Linked DNA regions of Homo sapiens. The protein of the gene in region 2 purifies or fractionates together with the protein of the main gene of each other region. This does not show direct contact. Each region holds a gene or a part of one and is shown on either strand. Other genes may lie near its edges. The genes, in order: NPTX1, TCTN1, TUBB8 and TCTN2.

What was found.
Region 1: the proteins of TCTN1 (region 2) and NPTX1 purify together in Homo sapiens (affinity purification with mass spectrometry; 2 studies listed by BioGRID and IntAct, with this or other methods). This does not show direct contact.
Region 3: the proteins of TCTN1 (region 2) and TUBB8 purify together in Homo sapiens (affinity purification with mass spectrometry; 2 studies listed by BioGRID and IntAct, with this or other methods). This does not show direct contact.
Region 4: the proteins of TCTN1 (region 2) and TCTN2 purify together in Homo sapiens (affinity purification with mass spectrometry; 3 studies listed by BioGRID and IntAct, with this or other methods). This does not show direct contact.

The regions. Positions count from the first base shown.
Region 1 is NC_000017.11:80,466,592-80,473,621, reverse strand, and holds the end of NPTX1 (neuronal pentraxin-1 precursor), read left to right. Parts: intron 1-177; coding exon 178-422; intron 423-1,710; coding exon 1,711-1,890; intron 1,891-2,587; coding exon 2,588-2,809; 3' UTR 2,810-6,788; downstream 6,789-7,030. UniProt on the Homo sapiens protein: May be involved in mediating uptake of synaptic material during synapse remodeling or in mediating the synaptic clustering of AMPA glutamate receptors at a subset of excitatory synapses.
Region 2 is NC_000012.12:110,645,117-110,649,948, reverse strand, and holds the end of TCTN1 (tectonic-1 isoform 1 precursor), read right to left. Parts: coding exon 4,820-4,832; coding exon of another isoform or gene 4,806-4,819; intron 2,754-4,805; coding exon 2,613-2,753; intron 2,201-2,612; coding exon 2,057-2,200; 3' UTR 2,056-2,056; intron 1,264-2,055; exon of another isoform or gene 907-1,263; 3' UTR 540-906; downstream 1-539. Other genes in the region: HVCN1 (voltage-gated hydrogen channel 1), read left to right, coding at 474-539. UniProt on the Homo sapiens protein: Component of the tectonic-like complex, a complex localized at the transition zone of primary cilia and acting as a barrier that prevents diffusion of transmembrane proteins between the cilia and plasma membranes.
Region 3 is NC_000010.11:46,358-53,660, reverse strand, and holds TUBB8 (tubulin beta-8 chain), read left to right. Parts: upstream 1-4,364; 5' UTR 4,365-4,422; coding exon 4,423-4,479; intron 4,480-4,748; coding exon 4,749-4,857; intron 4,858-4,935; coding exon 4,936-5,046; intron 5,047-5,202; exon of another isoform or gene 5,203-5,236; intron 5,237-5,378; coding exon of another isoform or gene 5,379-5,546; coding exon 5,547-6,604; 3' UTR 6,605-6,773; downstream 6,774-7,303. UniProt on the Homo sapiens protein: Tubulin is the major constituent of microtubules, a cylinder consisting of laterally associated linear protofilaments composed of alpha- and beta-tubulin heterodimers.
Region 4 is NC_000012.12:123,674,091-123,681,120, reverse strand, and holds part of TCTN2 (tectonic-2 isoform 1 precursor), read right to left. Parts: intron 1,933-7,030; coding exon 1,832-1,932; intron 1-1,831.

The DNA.
Region 1 (7,030 bases), on a different chromosome or scaffold from region 2:
GGCCCTGTGCCTTGGGGCAAAGTACTTGACCTGGGAAGCTACCCGCTCTGCGTCTCCAGAATGGAGACCGGAGCCTGCCCTGGCCACGCATCACAGAGCTTGGTGGGGACCGAACTCAACTCAGACACCGATAAGCACTTCACGCAGGTGCAGATGTCAGGACTGTGTCTTCCGCAGGTCAGAAAGACAACCGCCCTGGAGACAAGTTCCAGCTCACATTCCCACTGCGGACCAACTATATGTATGCCAAGGTGAAGAAGAGCCTGCCAGAGATGTACGCCTTCACTGTCTGCATGTGGCTCAAGTCCAGCGCCACGCCAGGTGTGGGCACGCCCTTCTCCTACGCTGTGCCCGGCCAGGCCAACGAGCTGGTCCTCATTGAGTGGGGCAACAACCCCATGGAGATCCTCATCAATGACAAGGTAGAGCAGCCCCCGGGCTCACAGGGCGGCAGGGCGAGGCCCCAGGGCCCCAGCTCATGTTGCATGCGGAGACAGGGCTATGGTGGCCTCAGATGTTGATGGGGCCCCAAGGAAAGTGTTTGCCAGGTGGGACTGAGGGAGGGGGAGGGTGAAGACCAGGAGAAGTGGTAGGAGCCCCCTCACCTGTACTGGGAGAGCAGGGAGAGCTGGACCTTCCCGGATGCCTCCTGGGGTGGGTACGGGAGATGGCGGAGAACGAGCCATGGGGCCTGGCCCTGCCCGATGATGTGATCTGGACTCCTCCACCAGCTGGCCTTGGAACTGGCTTTGCCCCTCCATAGCAGGGACCCAGAGATGCTCTAGCGGGGTGAGGGGTCCTTAGAGATTTTTCCTGAGTCCAAGTCTATCCCACTCAGCCCCCTAACTCTCGGGAGGAGGACAGGTCTGTGTGATCCCTTGGAACAGGACAGCACAGGCAGCCTTTCCCTCTAGTGAACATTCTCCATCCTCCCCTGTTAGCTATGGAACTAGCTGCCAGCTTTCAAACTGTCTCAAGTCCAGGCCAGCAGTGGTAGTCAATGGCTAAAACCTGGGCTGGGAAGTGGATTCCACGCCCTTGTTCCTGTTGCTCTTCCCCACAAAGGGCTGTGCCATTCTGGGCCCCCTTTCCCCAAGCGGAAAGGGTGTGAAGTTTCTTTCCTCACTGTCTGCTGGACCGTCATCCTCCCGACCTGGAATGGCAGTGGGAGAGTGAAATTCCAGGTTGGAGGCTGGTCTGAGCTTTAAAAGGCATCGTGCTCCATGACATCTCTCAGATCCTCGGCAAAAGCTTGCCGTGTTGTAGAGTGAGAGGGTGTAACAGCTAGAGATGGGACATCGGAAGAGAGAGGAGAGGCCAGCAAGGAGGCTGCACAGATGTCGCACGGAGCCTTGAGAGGCAGCAGTGAACTCAGACACCAGGGACGGCTCTCCCTGGTGTAGACTAGGGCTTGTTGTGTAGACTAGCAAAGAGGGAGGAGGGTGAGTAGGAGTGAAGAGACTGCACACCCACATGGCCCTTGGGGGTTCCCTCGGTAGAGCCTTACATTTCCTGTGTGATTCTGTGCCCCACGCCCAGGCGGGGCTGACAGACGCTGAAGTCTGGGGCAGTAGGTGCTGTGAGAATTCAGTAATAGTTATTGACATTTACTTTGCAAGTAGAGATAGGAACAACTGAGGCAGTGAAGATTATGGCTTCTGGGCTGTACCCCTGTACTCACCAGCTGGCGTCTGTCATTCTCCTTCCCAGGTGGCCAAGTTGCCTTTTGTCATCAATGATGGCAAGTGGCACCACATCTGTGTCACCTGGACCACCCGGGACGGGGTCTGGGAGGCCTACCAGGATGGCACGCAGGGTGGCAGTGGCGAGAACTTGGCGCCCTATCACCCCATCAAGCCCCAGGGCGTGCTGGTGCTGGGCCAGGAGCAGGTACTGTGCTGGATGTGGTGGGGAAGGGGAGAGAGCTTCAGAACCAGAGGCTGGGAAGGGGAAGAGGAGCAAGGAGGGAGGGAGGTAGCCGGAGAAGTGGTTCCCCTGAGAAGCAGCCCGGGGAGCAGGCTGGGCAAGGCCTGTGCCCTGGGTGGACATGCACTTGAACTTCCTGCAGGAGTGAGCTCTGGTTTCAACGCTCTCAGAGCTGCAGCAACACTTTCTTTGGCATGGGAAGGCCAGTTCTGCTTTTAGTGATGCATAATCTAGTTCCCGTGAAGTGGTTTGTCTCCTGTTGGGCACCTGGGAGGAAGACGAAGGGATGGAGAATCGGGGACGTCTGTCCCTGTTGGGCAGCTTTAGCTGGCATGGAGTGATGTCTGGGCAGGGGCCCCAGGCCCAGCTGCTGTGGTTGTCCATGGCTGAGGGACCAGCTGCAGGAGGGGCAGAGTCCAGGTCCCCCCAGGAGAAGCTCCAGGGCAGAGGTGGTCGGTGCCATCCCTTTTCTTGGGCTCCCCCAGAGGAGGGATGGATGTAGGGCTGGAGAGTCAGGGACAGGGAGACGAAACGGCACCTAGGAGTGTCCGTGAGAGTCCGTGATCGGGCAGGCACAGAGGCACTCAGATCCCCGGCCTAGGGATGGGCCCCCAGACCACCTGGCGACCCCTCCACTCTCATCCTCTGTTTTTCTCTGAAGGACACTCTGGGTGGTGGGTTTGATGCCACCCAGGCATTTGTGGGTGAGCTGGCCCACTTCAACATCTGGGACCGCAAGCTGACCCCCGGGGAGGTGTACAACCTGGCCACCTGCAGCACCAAGGCTCTGTCCGGCAATGTCATCGCCTGGGCTGAATCCCACATCGAGATCTACGGAGGGGCCACCAAGTGGACCTTCGAGGCCTGTCGCCAGATCAACTGAGCACGGCAGGCCAGGCTGAGCCCGCCCGCCCTCGCCCCCTGCTTGTGCGGCGATGATCTGTTTTGTGCGTCTCTTCTCTCCCTTTTCCCCAGGAATGAACCGAGGCCGTCGCCCCTGCACACGCACACGCACACAGCCTGGTTTTGTCCTCATGCACACGAAGCAGCCCCTGCTCCCATCTGTCCCTGAGGAAGCCCCACTTCTCTGTAGGAGCCCGGACTCTCTCAGGCATGCCCCATTCACAGCTGAAGTGGGTGCTGCAACGTCTTGAACAAGGCAGAAGTTGGTGAGAGGATCTGTGTGTGCGTGTCTACATGTGTGTGTCTACGTGTGTGCGTGCGTGGCTGGGGGAGGCCTTTTCTTTGAGGACGTACCTCATTTCCTTCTTTCTTCTGGCTTTGGAAAAATCTCATGATGAAAATTCATATTTGCCAACTTTGTTAGCTGCGTGCGTGCTTTGGGGTTGGTGCAACCTCAGTACACGCATTTGTCTTTGTTTGCAAACCTTTCTCAGAGCGACATATCTTTATATTGATGTAATAAATGTCTTTTAGTGGTTTGTCAAAGGCCGGGGGCGGGGGCTCTCTACAGAGAATTTTTATTTTGTAATAGAAGTGAACTGTCTCTGAAGGGTGAAGGCAGGCCGTCCTGGGATGGTACCCTGTGCTCTCCCGTGGAGGAGAGGGGATGGCTGAGGACACTGGCCCTTACCCCAGGGCCAGACAGCATCCATCCCTGCTGTTTGCATCTGAGAGCAGCATGGGGCCTGGGAGGTCGGCCTGTGTGCCCAGCTCAGCTAGCTCTGCCCCAGGACGGCCCTGCCCTCGACCTTCCCACCTCCTCAGATCCTGCAAGGCTGGGGTCTGCCCCTCCCTTCTCACCTCTGGAGCTGTGCTGCACTGCTTCAGCCCAGAGGGCCCTGAGAGAGGAGCGTGCCACCCACAGCCCGGGAAGCCGGGCCCCAGCACCCCTCTCCTTTGGCCTCCGGCAGTGCAGACCAGAGGGGACCTTTTAAGGAAAGAAGCCGTGTTTCGATGAAGACCTGGCCACATGGGGCCACTGGGACTTCAACCCAGCCCATCGGTGGGAAGGTCCTTTTTGGGGGACTTTGACAGCCATATCCCTCCCAGCACACCAGGCGCCAGGTGAGCTGGTTCAGACCCCTCCAGGGGTACTCCAGAGACCTCACGTGTGGAGCCAGGCCTGGCCAGGGCAGGGGCCTGAAACCCACTCCTCCATCTCATGGGGCTCACGGCCTACAGCAGCCCACAAGCTGCCACTGGCCGGCGACACTGACACCTGAGCAGTGTCCAGAACCTTTTTGCCTTTTTTTGTTCCCCGTGAAAAGCAACATGGACATTTCCTTCTAGTCCTTCCAAGGAGGGGAGAGAAGTGTATGTGCATTTGTGTGTGTGTGTGTGTGTTGTGTGTGTGTGTGCGCTAAGTGAGAAAGAGAGCAGGCTCGGGAGGCCCTGCCCAGGGTAGGAGGAGCTTCCTGCTTTGCACCATCTGGTGGTCGCACGCCCTGAGGGCACCCCGACTCTGTCTCCAGGAGTCTCATCAGCAAACCGCTGACAAGTCTTTCTAGAAATTCTACTGCACTGCCTGGCTCAGCTGCAGCTGCAGACATTTCTGCAGGAGGAGCAGGTGTTTCTGTCTTCTGTTCCTTCTAGGGCCACCTGTCCCCTTAAACACAGGTCCACGTTGTGTCAAGAACCTAGTGCATCTGTGTGTGTCTGTCAGTGTCTCTGTGTCAGTGTTCTCGTGGGTGTCTGCACGGTACCCGGCCGCCGTTCTGCAATGCATCACTCCCGCAGAGGGGGGTGCAGATCAGGCGCCGTGCTGCGCGTTGTTGTTCAACAGTGGCTTTTTCTTAGATAATCGTGCTTCCTCAGCGCCCGTCGGGTTGTGGCATCCTTGGATCTGCAGGGATCTTCTCCGTTTGCATGTTCCTCGGGGTGGCGTGTTCCTTGCTCCCTGGGTCCGACATGTGTTCCCGCACCTGCATGGACTGCCCCGGTTCTGTGTTGTGTGCCGAGTGCCGCCCAGTGTTCTGTGACCACCCGTGTAGCTACTGAAAATGGCTGGGTAAGCAAGTCAAGGGTGTTGGAGGAGGTCAAGAGAGAGCTCAGTTTCCCTCTCCCCCTCCCCAAACACACCAAGAAGCATTTTTAACGTGTAGGTTGAGAACAAGCCTAAAGGATTCCCACAGCTGGGAGCCAGCAAGAGAGCTTGGAGTCGCCTCTCTAGACCAGATCTAGCCCCACCCTCACTCCAGCCATCTCGGAGCCCTTGTGTAGGCAACGCCCGGTGCGGGCTGTGTGGGGTGCTCCCCTGCCAGCACCTCCGGCCAGCCCCGCCCCTGCCGATCTACTGGACCGCAGACCACCTTCTGCCCCCGTGGGCCAGGTGGGAGCTGTCCGTTCAGGACCATGAGCCATCCTCTGCCCTGACTAGCGAGGGGCAGAGCACACCCCAGTGCTTACGCCTCCACCCCTGCAGCCTCCTGGCCCGCTCACCTTCCTCACCCCTCCTCTGACCCACCCATGGTGCCAGGGCCGAAGCTGACCTTTAGCTCCCTCCTGCCCCTTGCTAGGGTCTGAGCCAAGCCCCTCGACTCCCTCACTGTGTTGACACTTGGCACTTTGCTGGCCCCGAGAAAGGTCGATGACACAGCCGCAAATCTAATCCACGTAGTTCCCATTTACTCCTTAATCTGATTGATGTTCCCTCTTGCACTGAATAATACATGCCTCTCTCAGGTAAGCCATTTTATAAAACAAGAAGATAAAAAGCACTGTTGAGGCAGTGTTTGCTTTTGCCGAGCTGGTGTCCGACAGCTCCCTGGGTGTCCGGGGTGGGAGAGCTGTTGACAGAAGCTCTCCGGGCCCTCAGGGGCTTAGATCCCACTTGAGTCGTAAGCCTTCTTGCTTTTGATAACACAGTATTATTTCTCTTACTGTAGAAGAAAAAGTTTATTACCAAACAAGAGTATTTTTATGAAAGAAAAGGACAAACCTATAAATTAACTCAACCTATATCTCCCTTGAAAATACTTTCAGGCTCCACCAAAACGTAGAACTGAAAGCATGTATTTTGGAAGAAAGAGATACATTTTGTATGCTTTCTTTTCCTTTTGTAGATTCCCAGTTTATTTTCTAAGACTGCAAAGATCACTTTGTCACCAGCCCTGGGACCTGAGACCAAGGGGGTGTCTTGTGGGCAGTGAGGGGGTGAGGAGAGGCTGGCATGAGGTTCAGTCATTCCAGTGAGCTCCAAAGAGGGGCCACCTGTTCTCAAAAGCATGTTGGGGACCAGGAGGTAAAACTGGCCATTTATGGTGAACCTGTGTCTTGGAGCTGACTTACTAAGTGGAATGAGCCGAGGATTTGAATATCAGTTCTAACCTTGATAGAAGAACCTTGGGTTACATGTGGTTCACATTAAGAGGATAGAATCCTTTGGAATCTTATGGCAACCAAATGTGGCTTGACGAAGTCGTGGTTTCATCTCTTAAACACAGTGTGTAAATTTATTCAACTAACGATGGGAAATGTATTACTTCTGTACACAGTGGACTGAAGTGCAATTTGTTGAAAGGGAACAAGTCATTGAAGAGAAAAAAAAAGCCCAATACTTAGAGTCCCAATTTTGTCTCATTTGCCAAAAAAAAAAAAAAAAAAAAAGCAAACCCCCTATGGTTGATATTGTTATAATGTATATACTGTATAATATGAAAGAGAATCGATGTATCTCACTTTTTCATTATTTGCTAACCAAAGCTGTACATTTTTCATATGATCTGCAGCCTTTTGGGTATCAAATGGGTCAAAACCATGGGACCTGCCACCTCCCATCAGCAATTCTGGAAATGCACTATTTCTACTGGTATTCTTGCTTTTTTTTTTTTTTTCATTTTCTTGCTGAAATGACATGAATTGTTGAGTTTATTTTTACACAGTAAAGAGTGGAGAAAGACTGTGGTCTCCTCAGGATGTCTCTTCTTTTCCGAGGCTTGCCAATGCCACCTCCCCCTGCAGCCACCCCTCTTCCCCAGCCAGGTGCAGGTGACCCTCACCTGCAGGGGGTGTGTGCCTCGCTTGTGCATTGCCCTGTGCCCTTTGACAACCCCACACCGTCTGGTGATGCTGGATGTTGGGTGGAGGGGTCTCCATTTCCCAGGGGCAGCTGACGCAGAGGCAGAGAGTGGCCCAGTGTTTC
Region 2 (4,832 bases):
GCTTGAACCCGGGAGGTGGAGGTTGTGGTGAGCCAAGATCGCGCCATTGCACTCCAGCCTGAGCAACAAGAGCAAAACTCTGTCTCAAAAAAAAAAGATATCTGGGAAGCTGGCCTCTGCCGCAGCACCCGCCTGCAGCAGAGCGCTGCTCATGCACCTAGAGCGCCCTTCCCTGGGCTGAGCCTGCCTTGTCCTTTCAGATCCAGCCCAGGCGTCACATCCTCCCTGAAGCTGTGCCCACCCCCACATCCCAGGGCTCTGCCAGGTCCCCCACGTTTGTCTTCTCACTGCTGTCACTGCTGCTCAGTGAAGCCTATCTGATTGTAGCAGTCTCCTCAGCAGACTGAATGCCACAAACAGCGTAGCTTTCATTCATCTCTGTGGTCCTGTGCCTGGGGCTCACTGAATGATTGATTGTCACATCCCTGGCGAGGCTCAAAGTAAATTCCAGTGTTTGTCTGCTTTTGCAATAGGAACAAGAAATTGAAAGACTTAACAAACTATTGCGACAGCATGGACTTCTTGGTGAAGTGAACTAGACCCGGACCAGCTCCCCTCAAAAAGAAGACACTGTCTCATGGGCCTGTGCTGTCACGAGAGGAACAGCTGCCCCTCCTGGGCCGCTTGGTGAGAGGTTTGGTTTGATACCTCTGCCTCCCTCCTGCCAGCATGGATTCTGGGTGGACACAGCCTTGTGGAAGGTCCAGTACCACCAAGAGCTGCCCATCCACTCCCACCCCACACTGTATCAAATGTATCACATTTTCTCATGTTGAACACTTTAGCCTTAATTGAAAATGAGCAACAAAGCTGGACAATTGCTAGTTGTATATAAAATTTAATCTCACCGAATGTACAGTTTTCAAATTTCACGTGTATATTAAGGAACTGATGCATCTGAGCATTCTGAAAGAAAGAAAAAGAAGCTACTTTAGCTGCCACCCCATTCTAGAAAAGTCTCTTATTTTCAAGCTGTTCTAAATAGCTTCGTCTCAGTTTCCCCAAAAGGGGTACCCAGGCCCCTCCTCTGTGTGCCCCAGCTGCATCAGCCAGCTTCTAGGTGGCTCCATTGTTTTCTGCCACCTGACAACATTTTTCCTCAATTACTGTACAACTACTGTATAAAATAAAACAACTACTGTATAAAATAAACTCTCTCTTTTCCCTGGACCCTCCTACTGTATTCTTTCCTCTGTGGCACCCATACCAGCCTGCCAGTCGGAGAGCAAGCTAGCTACAGTGCCTGGTGCAGAAATGGCAATTAGACCCAAGACTCCACTATAATTAACAAGGTATTTGGGGGAAGATCCCCTTGTAAGGGCTGTGTGCTCTTCTCGCATGATTTTATCTAATATTTTGCTATTTTTTTGTACTCATTTCAACCGGACCCAAAAAGGAAAAAACCTGAACTGAGTATTTTTAAAATAAATAACTCAAAGCAGGGGATGAATGAACTGGCCAAATCCCCCTTGCCTCTGCTGCTTCAAGTCCTGTTCATGTTCTTTACCATCTCCCCAAAGACTTTTTGGGTTCTATCATCTATGACCTATGTGTTAAGCATATTCCCCATTCAAAAGTCAGATAGAATAACATTTCCAAAAGGAAAAAAGGCAGGAAGGGAGTGGAGAAGGGCAGTGTGCTGGTTTGGAGGCAACCTCAAAGGTTAGAAGTATAATAAGGCTAGGCATGGTGGCTCACACCTGTAATCCCAGCACTTTCAGAGGCCGAGGCAGGAGGAGCACCTGAGCCCAGGAGTTTGAGACCAGCCTGGTCAACACAGCAAGACCCCATCTCTACAAACTATATTAAAATTAGCCAGGTGTTGTGGTGTGCACCTGTAGTCCCAGCTATTAGGAGGCTGAGGTGGGTGGATTGCTTGAGCCCAGGAGGTCAAGGCTGCAGTGAGCCATGATCACACCACTGCACTCCAGCCTGGGCAACAAAGCGAGACCCTCAAAAAGTATAAAATGCAGTATCCCCTAGGGACTTCTAGCCCCACGTGCACACTTTCCAAAGGGGATGACCTCAGAGGAGGGGCGTAGTTTCCTCACTTACGTCAAACAAACGGGAAGAAGAAGTTAAAGGGCAGCCTGGCATTGATGGCTGGTGGAGCTCTGAAGCCTGCCTCTGCAGGTGCAGACACATCCACAAAAGTAACCGCAGTGGAAATAAGAATCGTCCTTTCATTTCCTGAGTTGGCCTGTAATAAACAGAGAGATGCAAGGCCCACCCTCCAGTGTGCTCCCAGAATGACAACAATGAGACACTTTTCATTCTCTTCCTCACCCAACTACTGTCAGTTCATGAATCTGATAGGTCCTGGAGCACTAATTGGCCATTAACTTGGATGAGAGAAACAATTTTACCAGGGTGTCTGATTAACACGTGAATATCATAATTTTCATGAGAATTTTAAAGATCCAATCTGAACCAGAATGCTAATGTAAGTAGAACCATCGTCAGTGTTTCTAAGAATGACTGCTGAAATATTTTATGAACCCCCATGGTTTAAATTATAATCTTTTTCACAAAGTAATACCTGTCACCTACCACACTTGAGTTGTGTCTAGACTTCTGTCTTAACCTATGCCTTTAAACTAGGTTAGGCCTACCTCAGGAAAGGAGGATGAAATTAGATTTGCAGTTACATTGACTATTTTGGCCTGTGGATTCAGCAGGGATCCGTATTTAGTCCACTTCACTTCTATAACCAAAGCCCCTGGGAGCTGGCAGGAATCCTGCAAAACAAAATGCTGTTAATCCATTAGAATCTTACAAAACTGCAAGTCAGACTTAATCTGCAGTTCAGAGTTTTAATTATAAAAGGTTTCACATATTACAAAATGTTCTGAACAAGAAAATGAATAGACTCTACAAGTTCAGATAAAAACAGCTTAGAGAATATACGTGTTTTAAAGTAACTCAATGCCCCAAAAATATTTTTAACAGCTGAAGCGTAATTTTTCCATCTCCTCCTATTTCTAAAAATGCCGACATCACCTGAAACTGCGGTAGTGCCAATACCCAACTGTGGACCATTTAGGGCCATAACTGCTCTAACTTCATCTACCTGTTTATAGCGGCCTCACAGACTTCAGGAAAGAAACTGGTGGGAGGGATGGAGGGGGAGAAATAATTATTAGCAGACAAAACCTGATTGCATGTCATGTTAAAATGCTCTAAGGGGAAATTTAAGTGCTTTCTTTTCATTTACCTAATTTCATCAATTGGCAATTAAGATGTGACATCTAGGTAATCCAGGCAGTGTCCGTATGTTGTCAAAGACATCAACTCTTCAACTGCATCAGGAACACTGCTGGTGCCACGAAGGAGCTGAGCTGCCCCTTTGGTTGGCTGCTTTGGCAGCCAGCTCTAAGGCCTCTGACCCAAGGGAAAAAGGGGCCGTGGGCTTTCCAGGGCTTTTTCCTGCCTTGGCAGTCTCTCCGGTTGGCAAATGTGGTAACTGTTGAAGCTGCAGGCTGGGTACGTGGGGACTCCATGGTACTATTCTACTTTTGTGTGTGTCTGACATTTTTTCATTAAAAAAAAAAAGCTTTAAAATACATCTCTTCAGGATATGAAAACCTCACAGGCCTGCTAAATTTGGTGGCTGCGAAAAAAGCACTGATGGAATTCCTTAGCTTGGAACCGCCTTTAAAAACCATGCAGACTGAACAATCCTCTCGAATACCCTGTTCTTAGGAGACAATGCAGCATGCAGCTGGTGGAAACTGAGTTTAGCAGGTGCTCGTGCCTGCCTCTACCTGGGTTGCCGGCAGAGTTGGTACAAAACCTGCTGCTGCAGGCCCTCTGAGCACCCAGGATCAGCACAGACCCTGACGGTGCCATGTGCGCACTGCTGCCTCTCCTCCCAACCCATGTCTTCCCTTCTGAGGAGGAGTAATAACTGCACATCTTCACCCATGGCCAAGAAGCCAGAAGCGATGTGCCTGGTTCTGGTGGGAGAGTTGAGTCAAGACTTCGCAGTGGAACGGCAGGGACTGAGTAATCCCGGGTCTCTGCTGGCCTCGGTGGGAGGGCGGATCAGAGAAGTGAGCAGTCCTCACCCCCGTTATGCCCATGCTAGAAATATTCGGAGCGGATAATGAGAGGTCTGAAGAAAGCGTGACAAGAACAAGCTGGGCAATTACAGGCTAAGATGGAGAGCACGCCCCTGGGCCAGGGCCGGCCCACACGCTGACTGCTAAGACAAAAGAAAAAGGTGGGCAGAAGCATCATGTGTGACCGGGAACCTATCTGTAGGATTGTCAACTTCCATTCAACTCTGTGAGGAACTGTGGCAGTGAAAACTCTCAGGTGTGGGCTGCCTGTGTAGAACAGGGGACAATGGGTGGGAGAGCCACATGCACGGAAGTCAGTCTCAGTCTTTGATACAGGACTCAACATTCGTCTATCGTGTCATGAGATGCCTGGAGAGGGCTCGGGGGACACCAGCAATCACAATGATGGTAGCAACAGGATGAGGATCACAGAGGTTCCCATTTATGGACCACTAGGCACCATGCCCAGGGCCACATAAATGTTACCTCACTTAACCCTCTCAATGCCCCATGAGGCCATTCACTCACTATTGACTAGCGTTCCCATTTCACAGATGAAAACAGAGGCTCAAAGCCATAAAACTGCTGGCCAGAGGCAACATTGCTAACAAGGGGCAAAAATCAGTATCCAAGATTCAGCCCGCGCTCCCACTCAGGGCCATCCTGCCTCCTTAACAGCTGGCTTCCCCGGCTGCCTTCATCACACCACCTGGAAGACAGAGACCACTAGCATGGAACCTGTACCTTCTCCCCTTTACCTTCCTGTTGAAT
Region 3 (7,303 bases), on a different chromosome or scaffold from region 2:
AAACACTGTTTTTCTTTTCCACTGAATAACACCACATTTCAAAATGAGGGGAAACATCTTGAAACTAAGAGGTATGGCCTTACTAAATTTGTTTTGGTTTCCATTGTAATTAATTTAATCACATGTGTTCTAGAGTTTGTCCTCAGTCTTCTACTTTAGGCTCATGATCTGTTGAATTTGCTCAGCTCCCTGCTCAACAGCAGGAAATCAGAATTATTTAAAAGCCTCATTGTGGCTGGGAGCAGTGGCTCATGCCTGTAATCCCAGCAATTTGGGAGGCCAAGGTGGGCAGATCACTTGTTGTCAGGGGTTTGAGACCAGCCCGGCCAACAGAGTGAAACCCCATTTCTACTAAAGATACAAAAATTAGCTGGGTGTGGTGATTCATGCCTGTAATCCCAGCTACTTGGGAGGCTGAGGCAGGAGAATCACTTGAACCTGGGAGGCAGACGTTTCAGTAAGGCAAGATGGTGCACTGCACTCCAGCCTGGGCAACAGACCAAGACTCTGTCTCAAAATAATAATAATAAATAAAAATAAAAATCTCATGTTTCAAACAAAATTTCTTTTGCATATCAACTGTGTCAACTTGCATATTAACTATAATCATTTTGTTTACTTTATGTCCAATCCTGAGAAATCTTTGAGTACTAATTTCACTCTTTTCTGCCATTTTGGTAAACATACCAAATGCCATCAAACAAAATGCACAAAATTCCTGAGAAATACATTTTCTCCTTGAGGAGTATACTTGTTGTGTTAGAGGAACTCGTGGTTACCAAGCTTCTAGTTTAATACACATGACTAGAATTCTCTATCTTAATATGAGTAGCTAGGTACTCACAAGGCATCTAGAAGGTTAATACCTATGGTCTGAAAATAGCCACATTTTTTTACTGGCCACAGATTACAATTGCAGAATATTTATGGCCATACAAGACATCTTCCACCAAGCCTGAAAAATGTATAAATGTCCTAGGAGTGCAGCATTTTTTGTTAAAGATAATATTAACGAGCTAGCTTAGGTCAACGGGTTAATGGTCATTGTTAAAACGAATAGCCCCGACTTTAATGAGTACATCTGCACCTTCCAAGTTTAATTATAACTCTTTCTCTTTATAGTTAGAGACACTAACAAAAGACAATGCATTCCTGCTCTTGTTTTCTGAGGATGTCCAACTCTGTAATGGAGTCATTTCTAATAAACTTGCTTCTTTCACTGTGCTCTCTGACTCACCTCAAATTTTTTACTGCACAAGATCTAAGAATCCTACTTTGTGGTCTGTGTCAGGACCCTCTTTTCTAGCAACATCTTTCAGCAACACCATGAAGGGACACCAAGACAAGACCCCCACTCCAAGGAAAACAATCCACATAGAATCATTTAGCTGGCAAGTGGGCTGTGTTTTAGGGTCATGAAGCCATTCAGGTTGGCAAGAATGATTACCCACTATTACTTAAGTGAGAGGCCCTAGGGTATAATATTAGGGTGAGAGACTCAGCCCAAAGTAGAGACCTGGGGGTGTCATACTCAGATTAGAGGCCAAGCCCACAGGGTTAGAGGCCCTGGGGAACATTGAGAAGAATGGATTTGGCTAAACAAGATGTTTGCCACTTTCTCTTTTTGGACTGTCCACCTTGTGCTCTTTGTCCCTCACCTGAGTGCTCTGCATATTGTTGCCTTTCTGCTCACCGCCTCCGTTTTGCAGTAGCCTGGAGGCAGCCCCAGGAAAGAGGCCCCAAACAGTTTAGCTTTTACTTTCCTTAGCGATCCTCTGACTTTTAGCCTTGATGTCTTAGAGCTATTGCTGCTACCACTTTTCTAGTTGGCAAAGATAATAAACTAACATTAGAACAGCACCTACAGGTTTTTGACCCCACACCAAGGGAAGGTGGTCCTAGAAGGTAAAGGGCAGCAGTGGATAATAGGAGAATATTTATGAAAGTGTCAGGACTTATTGCTAGACCGACCCTCCAGACACAACCCTTAAAGCCTGCCAAGCCATAAACCCAGCTACTTAGCTGTCAGAGTCCACAGGTGCTTCTAGTCTTTCTGGCATACAGGCTGTATTAGTCTGTTCTTATGCTGCTAATAAAGACATATCTGAGGCTGGGTAATTTATAAAGAAAAGAGGTTTAATTGACTCACAGTTGCACATGGTCGGAGAGGCCTCACACTCATGGCAGAAGGCAGGTGAGGAACAAAGTTACATCTTCTACATGGCAGCAGGCAAAAGAGCTTGTGTAGGGAAACTCCCCTTTGTAAAATCATCAGCTGTAATCCCAGCACTTTGGGAGTCCAAGGCAGTGGATGACCTGAGGTGAGGAGATTGAGGCCAGCCTGGCCGACATGGTGAAACCTCGTCTATACTAAAAGTAGAAAAATTAGACAGGCATGGTGGTGGGCGCCTGTAATCCCAGCCACTCGGGAGGCTGAGACAGGAATCGCTTGAACCCAGCAGTCAGAGGTTGCACTCCAGCCTGAGCAACAGAGCAAGACTCTGTCTCAAAAATAAATAAATAAATAAACCATCAGATCTCATGAGGCTTATTCACTGTCATGAGAACAGCATGGGAAAGACCCATCCCCTGATTCAATTACCTCCCACTGGGTCCCTCCCACAATATATGGGAATTAGGGGAGCTACAATTCAAGATAAGATTTGACTGGGGACACAGCCAAAGCATGTCACAGGTTATGAAACAAATTGATTCTAGCAGGCCAGACATAAGAGAGATGATTCCCTGGACCATCCCAAGGAAGAGTGGTTAACAGATGCAAGTTGTTTTATGCATCAGGAAAACAGGAGGGCTAAATATGCTATTATTAGCACAAGAGAATCAATCAAGGCACAAGCCTTGCTGGCTTCGACCTCAGCAGCTCAAAAAGCTGAGTTAATTGAACTAACTAGGCCCCTGCAGTTGGGAAAGAATTTAAAAGTTAACATTTACACTGATTCCAAGTATGATTTTTTAGTGCTTCATGCTTATGCTGCAATTTGGAATGGGTGGGGACTCCTGACCCCCAAGGGCTTTTCCATACAACATCGTTCAGATTTTGAGCTTGTTAGAGTGCTGCTTTGCTGCCAAAAAGTGAGTATAATTAATTGCAGAGGACATCAAAAGAGAGACTGACCATGTAAAAGGAAATGCCCTTGTAGATGCCACAGCCAAGGCCCCTGCACTGAAAGGGCCAATGAAGCTTGTGGGCGTGCTGGTCAGCATACATAGAACTGGGCCAGAATACCCTGAAGAAGAACGAAAATGGGCCAGGGATTGCATTTCAGTCCAGGGCCCCTCGGGCTGAATGATGGTAATAAATTACTAATGCCAAGTACCAATCACAGGAGTATAACTCAGCACTTTCATGATTCTTTTCACCCTAGAAGGGATTCTTTGTTTCTGTTAATGTCTCATTTGTTTATAGGGGTAAATCTTTTCAAGACACTAAAACAGGTGACTCAGCCCTGTGAGCTTTGTGCCTGACATGACTCAAATGGCCAGCAATTTTCTCCTTCTCCAGTTAAACCTGTCCAAAATTGAGGAACCTATCCAGGTGAGAACTGGCCACTCTAATTTACCCGGAAGCCTTTCTGCAGGAGATTCAAATATTTGCTAATGCTTACTGACACCTTCACTGGTTAGATCGAGGCATTCCCCACCCCATCTGAAAAATGTTTACCAGAAGAAATAACTCCTCAGTTTGGGTAATCCAAAAGCCTGCAAAGTGACAATGGCCCATCTTTCACAGCAGGCGTATCCCAAAACCTGTCCTCAGCTTTAAGAATCCAATATGACCTTCACTCTGCTGGAGACCACAGTCCTCTGGAAAGGTGAAAGGGCTAACCCTACTCTAAAGAAGACTCCAGCTAAATCAGAGGCCTGACTGTCTCTAACACCCATAGCTTATTGTGGGTTAGAACTGCTCCAAAGTAAAACGTATAATTGAGTCCTGTTGAGTTCACATGTGGAAGGCCTTTCCTAACCACAGATCTCCTAATAGATGAAAAGACTCATCAATTACAAAAATATGTCATCAATCTAGGACAGGTGCAAAGGCACTCCGTGCATATGGAAACAAGAGTCTTCCCCTCCCACATGGGAGGAAAATTCAGTTTCAGCTCAGCTAGGGATTTAGTCTTACTAAAGACGCGGGAGGAAGTTCTCCAGCGAGCAGCTTTCCCCAACGTGGAAAGGACCACGCAAGGACACCTGAGCTTTCCAACAGATGTTCAGCGCCAGGGGATCCACAGGTGGGTGCACCTGTGTGGAAGTAAAGCTGTTGCTTATTCTGGGAGCCGAATCCGAGGCGGAGGGAGGTGGGCGCGGGGCTATTTAAACGTTGGCGGAGGGCGGGCTGGGTCGCTGCGCGTCTGCTCCTCCTTCTCACGTTTCTCCTGCCGTCCTAATCCCGCCTTGGCCATGAGGGAGATCGTGCTCACGCAGATCGGGCAGTGCGGGAATCAGATCGGCGCCAAGGTTGGCAGCCGGGGCTCTGAGGGCCTAGCCCGGGCCTGCCGGGTGGCCGGGGAAGGTGTTGGCAGTGGCGGGGGCGGTGCCCATGCATTGCGGCCCCTGGGCTCCCTGCCGGGGACGGTGGAACCGGGTGGCTGGCGAGGCGGCCGGGGTGGACCCCAGGGACAGGGCGGCCTAGGGATGGGGGTGCGGATGAGGGTGGGGGTGGGAGAGCGGCTGGGGCGCCTCCCTGACTCAGCCCCGGCCTGTCTGTCTCCTCCCGTCTCTTGCAGTTCTGGGAGGTGATCTCTGATGAACATGCCATCGACTCCGCTGGCACCTACCACGGGGACAGCCACCTGCAGCTGGAGCGCATCAACGTGTACTACAACGAGGCCAGCGGTGAGACCCCCGTCCTTCCCCCACCGCCCTCCTGGGAACGCGGCCCTCCCCTCGCTCATGCCCTCCCGCCCCACGCAGGTGGCAGGTACGTGCCCCGCGCTGTGCTCGTGGATCTGGAGCCGGGCACCATGGACTCTGTGCGCTCGGGGCCCTTCGGGCAGGTCTTCAGGCCAGACAACTTCATCTTCGGTGAGCTGCGGGCGAGGACTGGGGTGCGGCTCCTTAGCCAGGGCAGCTCAAAATCCAGGAGTGTGCTAAGGTCATCCTCTGGGAACTGTGGAGCTAGGGCCCCTGAACACCCTCCTATCCTCCGAGTCGAGTCGCTCAATCTGCCTCTCCTAAATGGGCTTCGGGAGGAAGGCCCTGGTGTCTCCTCAAGGTGAGGAGTTACTGATGTAAACTCCCTGCAAGAACCTGAGCTGGGGCCGTGGCTACTGCCTTTCCTGAGAATGGGCAGGAGCCACCTGCAGCGAGGTCTGTGAACCCGTCTCAGGTTTGACTCCTGTCTTAATTCCTAACAGGGGAAGCTGCTGTCCTGTAACTCTGGGGGAGGGGGTTTCATCTGCTCCACCTGCAGGGCGAACGGTGCTCTCACCTCACGTGTGACGCTTGGCTCTTTCTGCATTATGGTGGTGACCACTGATGACCGTATACCTGGCCGTCGAGTGACCGGCTGTGCTGTCTTACAGGTCAGTGTGGGGCCGGAAACAACTGGGCCAAGGGACACTACACCGAAGGCGCGGAGCTGATGGAGTCAGTGATGGACGTTGTCAGAAAGGAGGCTGAGAGCTGTGACTGCCTGCAGGGTTTCCAGCTGACCCACTCCCTGGGTGGGGGGACTGGGTCTGGGATGGGTACCCTTCTGCTCAGTAAGATCCGGGAGGAGTACCCAGACAGGATCATAAACACATTCAGCATCCTGCCCTCGCCCAAGGTGTCGGACACCGTGGTGGAGCCCTACAACGCCACCCTCTCAGTCCACCAGCTCATAGAAAACGCAGATGAGACCTTTTGCATAGATAACGAAGCTCTGTATGACATATGTTCCAAGACCCTAAAACTGCCCACACCCACCTATGGTGACCTGAACCACCTGGTGTCTGCTACCATGAGTGGGGTCACCACGTGCCTGCGCTTCCCGGGCCAGCTGAATGCTGACCTGCGGAAGCTGGCCGTGAACATGGTCCCGTTTCCCCGGCTGCATTTCTTCATGCCCGGCTTTGCCCCACTGACCAGCCGGGGCAGCCAGCAGTACCGGGCCTTGACTGTGGCTGAGCTTACCCAGCAGATGTTTGATGCTAAGAACATGATGGCTGCCTGTGACCCCCGTCACGGCCGCTACCTAACGGCGGCTGCCATTTTCAGGGGTCGCATGCCCATGAGGGAGGTGGATGAACAAATGTTCAACATTCAAGATAAGAACAGCAGTTACTTTGCTGACTGGCTCCCCAACAACGTAAAAACAGCCGTCTGTGACATCCCACCCCGGGGGCTAAAAATGTCAGCCACCTTCATTGGGAATAATACGGCCATCCAGGAACTCTTCAAGCGTGTCTCAGAGCAGTTTACAGCAATGTTCAGGCGCAAGGCCTTCCTCCACTGGTACACGGGCGAGGGCATGGATGAGATGGAATTCACCGAGGCCGAGAGCAACATGAACGACCTGGTGTCTGAATATCAGCAATATCAGGATGCCACGGCCGAGGAGGAGGAGGATGAGGAGTATGCCGAGGAGGAGGTGGCCTAGAACTCTCCTTTTCTAGGTAAAGGGGGGAAGCAGTGTGGATTCTTTACTGTGTTCTGACAGCCATGTGTCACTATACGCTTGTTAATTTGTGTCTTCACATCTCCTGCTGCGTTTTAAAGCATTTTTATAGTATGCGGTTTTGACTAATAAAGTATTCTCACAGCATCTGGTTTTGCCTCCATCTTCTTTCTATGGGCCCTCTGGCTACTGCTGCCAGATGCGCATAGTTGTCCTGCAAGGCGGAAGCTGTCTGGGTTCATCACATGCCCAGGAACAAGCATTCCAGTGGCTCCAGGAGGGGTCGGTATGGGCTGTGGACATGGCAGGCAGGCTTCACATGAACTTGGGGATGCCCTGGGCCTTGGGCAGTGACGTGGTGGAAAACCTGTTGCTGAAGGCAAGCCTTGGCTTATCCCATATACCAAACTTCTAGGGGACCAGCTGGCCATGTTTCTGGAACGTTAAAAGGGGTCAGTGACCCTGGTGGACAATGTCCCCAGAGTCCCATCTCAGGGTAGGAATGTGGTCAGAGCTGGCTCTGAACCAGCAATGAAGGGTGGGCAAGTGGGACCCCAGGCACTCCATCATCACGATGGCCTGGGTGTGTTTGTGTGGCCTCATTCTCTTAATGAGGTGGGCATGGGATGTCTGGCAGGGACTAGGCAGGAATCAAGCCCAGTGTCTGCTAACATGCACTGA
Region 4 (7,030 bases), about 13 Mb from region 2:
GCCCAGCTAATTTTTGTAGAGATGGGGTTTTGCCATGTTGCCCAGGCTGGTATCCAACTCCTGAACTCAAGTGATCCACCCACATCGGCCTCCCAAAGTGCTGGGATTACAGGCGTGAGCTGCTTCGCCAGGCCTGTTCTTTCTTATTCTTTCTTTTTTTATATTTCTTAAAGGTTTCTGAATAAATATTATTAAAACCATCCCCCCAGTATGATCTTCACAATCATGATTTTATCCAAAGAGATATTCTTTCCTTCTTCCAAAAACTAGACTGACTATGCCAGATAAGAAAATACTGAATTTAGGCCCAGTGCAGTGGCTCACTCCTGTAATCCCAGCACTTTGGGAGGCCGAGGTAGGCAGATCACCTGAGGTCAGGAGTTTAAGACCAGCCTGGCCAACATGGTGAAACCCCGCCTCTACTAAAAATACAAAAATTAGCCAGGTGTGGTGGCGCACACCTGTAGTTCCAGTTACTCGGGAGGCTGAGGCACAAGAATCACTTGAATCCAGGAGGTGGAGGTTGCAGTGACCCGAGATCGTGTCACTGCACTCCAGCCTGGGCAACAAAGCGAGACTCTGTCTCAAAAAAAAAAAAAAGAAAGAAAAAAGAAAGAAAATAGAGTTTATATGTTGTATTGCTCTAAGCCTAAAAGAAAAAAAGTCAGGCCGGGCATGGTGGCTTACACCTGTAATTCCAGCACTTTAGGAGGCCGTCTCAAAAAAAAAAAATTTACTCAAAAGTTGTGTGATTTTTTTTTTTTTTTTGAAACGGAGTTTCGCTCTTGTTGCCCAGGCTGGAGTGCAGTGGCACAATTCTGGCTCACTGCAACCTCTGCCTCCCTAGTTCAAGCGATTCTCCTGCCTCAGCCTCCAGAGTAGCTGGGATTACAGGCGCCCACCAACACGCCTGGCTAATTTTGTATTTTTAGTAGAGATGGGGTTTCTCCATGTTGGTCAGGCTGGTCTCAAACTCCGGACCTCAGGTGATCCGCCCACCTTGGCCACCCAAAGTGCTGGGATTACAGGTATGCGCCACTGCGCCCACCAAAATTTTTAAATTTAAAAAAATACTCAATTTGGGCTGGGCGCGGTGGCTCACGCCTGTAATCCCCGCACTTTGGGAGGCCGAGGCGGGCGGATCACGAGGTCAGGAGATCAAGACCATCCTGGCTAACACGGTGAAACCCCGTCTCTACTAAAAATACAAAAAATTAGCTGGGCGTGGTGGTGGGCGCCTGTAGTCCCAGCTACTCAGGAGGCTGAGGCAGGAGAATGGCATGAACCCGGGAGGCGGAGCTTGCAGTGAGCCAAGATCACGCCACTGCACTCCAGGCTGGGCGACAGAGCGAGACTCCATCTCAAAAAAAAAAAAAAAAAAAAACTCAATTTGAAAACAATTTGCAATAGAAAACATAATCTCAGTTTTGGAAGACCATCCCTTAAAAAGCTGTTGGGGCAAGGCATGGTGGCTCACACCTGTAATCCCAACATTTTGGGAGGCCAAGGTAGGAGGACTGTTTGATCCCAGGAATTTGAGACCAGCCTGAGCAACATGGCAAAATCCCATCTCTACAAAAGATACAAAACAATTAGCTGGGTGTGATGGTTCATGCCTGTGGTCCCAGCTACTCAGGAGGCTGAGGTAAGAGAATCACTTGAGCCCGGGAGGTCGAGGCTGCAGTGAGCCATCATTGCATCACCATACTCCAGCCTGGGTGACAGAGCAAGACCCTATCTCAAGAAATAAAAAATGAAAAAAGCTGTTGGTGGAACTGCTGGTGTTCTCACAGGTAGCATAACTTTTGTGCCCAATAACCAAAGAACATACCTGGTCACAGCAGCAGCGAACATCACAGGCTCCAGCTGTTAAATTACAAGGACAAGGGCCAAGGGGCTGATACACCTGGTTAGGAATGACAGTCACGTTCTCTGAAAAGTACACACAACAGAAAAATTCAGCTAAGAAACATTCCGACAAAGCACAGTCACATTTTTGACATTCAAAAGAAAGCTGAATTATCGGCCAGGCGCGGTGGCTCACGCCTGTAATCCCAGCATTTTGGGAGGCCAAGGCAGGTGGATCATGAGGTCAGGAGATCGAGACCATTCTGGCTAACACGGTGAAACCCGGTCTCTATTAAAAATACAAAAAGTTAGCTGGGCGTGGTGGCAGGCGCCTGTAGTCCCAGCTACTTGGAAGGCTGAGACAGGAGAATGGTGTGAACCCGGGAGGCGGAGCTTGCAGTGAGCCGAGATCGTGCCACTATACTCCAACCTGGGCGACACAGTGAGACTCCGTGTCAAAAAAAAAAAAGCAAGCTGAATTATCTTGTTTTGTAAATCATTATTACCAAATATTTGACATTAAGGAATCCACGAAGTATATGAGGCCTGCATCTACCACTCCAACAAAAACCCAAACATAAGAAAACACGCCAGTTACAATGAACCAAAGAAGTCATAGTTGATCTAGAAGATAATCAATTGACTAAGAGTCACAAGTTAGTATATACATAATGTACTGATTTTAGGCTGGGCGGGGTGGCTCACACCTGTAAACCCAGCACTTTGGGAGGCCAGGGTGGGTGGATCACCTGAGGTCAGGAGTTCAAGACCAGCCTGGCCAACATAGTGAAACCCTGTCTCTAATAAAAATACAAAAAGTAGCCCAGGCTACAAAAAAGAAACAGATAAAATTAACTTAATATATTTTACTGAACCCAACGTATCCAAAATAATATCATTGCAACAGGCAATCAATGTAAAAATTATGAATGAGCTATTCCACATTCTTTGTTTCACATTAAGTCCTCAAAAACTGGTGGCTGTTTAACAGTTACAGCACATCTCAATTAAGACCCATCCCCTTTCAACTGTCCAGTGTCCAGACATGGTTCGTGGCTGTGGTACCCAACAGTGCAGGTGGGACAAATGTGGTCTGACCACGAGAGTATGGGGGGCTGGGTTATGCAGGGATGATACAGTGAGACACAACAGCTTCCCTGAGGGGCTCGCACTCTCAGAGGGAGGAGACAGGTAAAGAGATCATGTGACCATAAAGGGTAAACACTGAAATGGATCTGCCATGGGAACCCAGGGAGGGCACGTGGCTTAGGCTGGGCGTCAGGAAGACTTGCAGAGAGAGAGAATGCGCTGAGCCTGAAACACACGTAAGAGTTTGTACAGGTAGCCAGGCACAGTGGCTCAGGCCCGTAATCCCAGCACTTTGGGAGGCCAAGGCGGGGGAATCACCTGAGGTCAGGAGTTCGAGACCAGCCTGACCAACATGGAGAAACCCCATCTATACTTTAAAAAAAAAGAAAGAGTTTGTACAGGTAAGAGGGGCTACTGGAGAGCTGTAGGTGGAAGACAGAGGGGGTGGATGAATAGGGGGAACACTGTGGTGCAGGGGAGAAGGTGGCGGGCGTGAATGGGACAAGGCCAGAGAAAGCAGCTCAGGAGAAATGCTAAAAAGGTAAACATTGGCAGGGCCCGTTGTTTATAACTCTTCAGGATATTACAGGTTTCCGAACTTGTTTTCCTCTTTGAAGAGGAATATGTTACACGACATTTCAGCCTCCTAACTCAGAATCCAGTGACAGTAATGCTTTGGATTTCTCTCCAATCATTTATCAGATAAAAGTTTCATTCTGCTGAATTTTACTTTTGCATTTGGTACACGTTAGAAAACCATGCAGGAACTATTTGTTTAAACCCCACATAACAGTTAACTGTAATGACACAATAGCTGAAGTATCTAAAGAACAACTAACGATCTGTTCTATCCTGTAACATAGCAGAAGGTCAATGATACATCAATGGTATCCGGAACAAGGAGAAGGTCCACATCGCAGACCACGTTACACGGGTAAGGGTCTGACCCTCAGTGTTATCAAACCCATGTGACACAAGCAAGGCACTTTATTGATTTTTTTTTGAGACAGGGTCTCACTCTGCTGCCCAGGCTGAAGTGTGAAATGGCACAATCACAGCTCACTGCAGCCTCAACCTCCCAGGGCTCAAGTGATCCTCCCACCTCAGCCTCTCAAGTAGCTGGGACCACAGGTGTGCACCATCATGCTCAGGTAACGTTCATATTTTCTGTAAAGACAGGGTCTCACTATGTTGTCCATGCTGGTCTCAAACTCCTGGGCTCGAGTGATCCTCCCATCTTGGCCTCCCAAAGTGCTGGAATTACAGGCATAGTACATGAGCCACCACCCCCAGCCACGAGACACTTCAGAATAGGGTTTTACTATGTGTTATACAAATAGATGTTTGTGTGTTGATTTATGTTTTCTACATTGTTCGCTGGCTTCATTGTTACTGGGTATGACACATACCTCCTGTCTGTGCTTCCATTCTTTTTCTAGTTTTAATCGCTGGCTGGCTGAGTAAAAAATTTTTCATGCCTTCATGGGGTCAGAGCTGACAACTCAATCACTCATATACAAAGATGTTCAATTTTCTAAGTTTGGTATTCTAAAATATTAAATATTACCTAAATATACTGAAGCATATTTTCCTTTTTTTTTTTTTTTTTTTTTTTTTAGATGGAGTCTCGCTCTGTCACCCAGGCTGGAGTGCAGTGGTGTGACCTTGGCTCACTGCAAGCTCCACCTCCCGAGTTCACGCCATTCTCCTGCCTCAGCCTCTCGAGTAGCTGGGACTCCAGGCACCCGCCACCATACCCGGCTAATTTTTTGTATTTTTAGTAGAGACGGGGTTTCACCGTGTTAGCCAGAATGGTCTCGATCTCCTGACCTCGTGATCCGCCCACCTCAGCCTCCCAAAGTGCTGGGATTACAGGCGTGAGCCACCGCGCCCGGTCTTTTTTTAGAGACAAGGTCTTGCTCTGTCGACCAGGCTGGAGTACATGGAGCAATCCTGGCTCACTGCAGCCTCCACCTCCTGGGCTCAAGCGATCCCCCGACCTCAGCCTCCCTCATAGCTGGGGCTACAGGCACCGACTACCACGCACAGCTAATTGTAGTATTTGTTTGTAGAGACAGGGTTTTGCCATGTTGCCCAGGCTGGTCTTGAACTCCTAGGCTCAAGTGGCCCACTCACCTCAGCCTCTAAAAGTGTTGGGATTACAGGCATGAGCCACCACCTGGCCTCAAGCATATTTCTCAAAGGAAAAAAGTCAGTGCTTTGAATGGTACAGCTATCATGAATCCCTTCTGTTGTTTTGGGGGGATTTTTTTTTTCATCATTGAATACGGTTTTTTTGGCTTTGTTTTGAATTTTAAGCCATAGAAAAATTTAAAACTTTTAAGTGGGTAACACATTTGCATGGTTCCAAAAAATCAAAAGCATATTAAAAAATTCCTCACTGTCAGCCCTTTCCTGTTCCCACATCATCCTCCAACTTGGTAGCACATTATTAGCTTCTCCAACATCCTTCCAGAATTTCTTTATGCAAATGTTTTCATTTCTGCCTCCTTTATGCAAAAGATAGCACACTGTAGGCAGCCATCTGCACTTGCTTTTTTCACTTCATTCATCATGGAGGCCTTTCCATGCAAGTACACTGAGGGCACAGTAGTCTGCTGAAAGGAGCTGTCAAAACTTGTCTTATCATCCTAAACTTCCAGAAGCACCAGGAGGACCACAGTTAGGGATGTAATAAGGGAAGCGGCAGTAAAGGAGTCTCCAGGTAACAGACTTTTGCTACTAAAGTCTGGAACGCTTCTCCCTCCATGCCACGTGGCCATAAAGGCAAGAGATGTCAGAGTTCGCCACCGGAGACAGGGGACATGGCAGTAGCACTCATCACTGCAGAGCCCTCTACATCGGCACATCTAGTTGAAAGCTCTTTTGGTTTAAGAACACTAACATCATGTGAGACGGAGATGAACACAAAACCATTTTCTCATGTCCAAAGATTCATGTACACGGGCATAACGATCTTTGCTGTAGCATCAAAAGCTGGGAACAGACCAGGTGCAGTGGCTCCTGCCTGTAATCCCAGTACTTCAGGAAGCCATGGTGGGAGGATCACCTGGGCCCAGGAGTTCAAAACCAGCCTGGCTAACATAGTGAGACCCTGTCTCTACAAAAAATGTAAAAACTAGCCAGGTGTGGTGGTGCACGCCAGTAGCCCCAGCTACTATGGAGGCTGTGGCAGGAGGATCGCCTGAACCAGGAAGGTTGAGGCTGCAGCAAGCCAGGATCGTGCCCCTGCACTCTAGCTCCAGCCTGGGTAACAGAGTGAGACCGTGTCTCTAAAAAAAATGAAAATAAAAATAAATTTTAAAAAAAGCTGGAAATGATGTAAACTTCATCAGCCTCAAACTCCTACGCTCAAGCGATCCTCCCACCTCAGCCTCCCTAGTAGCTAGGGCTACAGGCAGGCACCATCATGCCCAGCTTTTTAAAATTTTTTATAGAGACAGTATCTGCTGTGTTGCCCAGGTTGGTCTCGAACTCCTGGGCTCAAGAAATTCCCCCGCCTTGGCCTCCCAAAGCACTTACAGTGTGGGAGCCACTGCGTCTGGCCACCCTTCCTTTTTTCTTCTTAAGATGCAGTCATGACAATCAATGCACGTGCCGAGCACAGTGGCTCACGCCTGTAATCCCAGCACTTTGGGAGGCCGAGGCAGGCGGATCACAAGGTCAGGAGATCAAGACCATCCCAGCCAACATGGTGAAACCCCATCTCTACTAAAAGTACAAAATTAGCTGGGCGTGGTAGCGTGAGCCTGTAGTCCCAGCTACTCGGGAGGCTGAGGCAGGAGAATCGCTTAAGCCCAGGAAGTGGAGGTTGCAGTGAGCCGAGATCACAACACTGCACTCCAGCCTGGTGACAGACTTAGACTCCATCTCAAAAAAAAAAGAGAGAGAATCAATGTACATAAACAAATTTCACCTTCTCCCAAAAAGGATTCAAGGTAGCTTATAAAGATGCAAACAGTAGAGAAAGATCAAATAAATGTTAAATAAAATAGTACAAAATGAAATTTCTTAAAAGAAAACTAAACAAAAGAAAAATAAGTTTAGAAAAGCAAGACAGACTCAAGTGAAG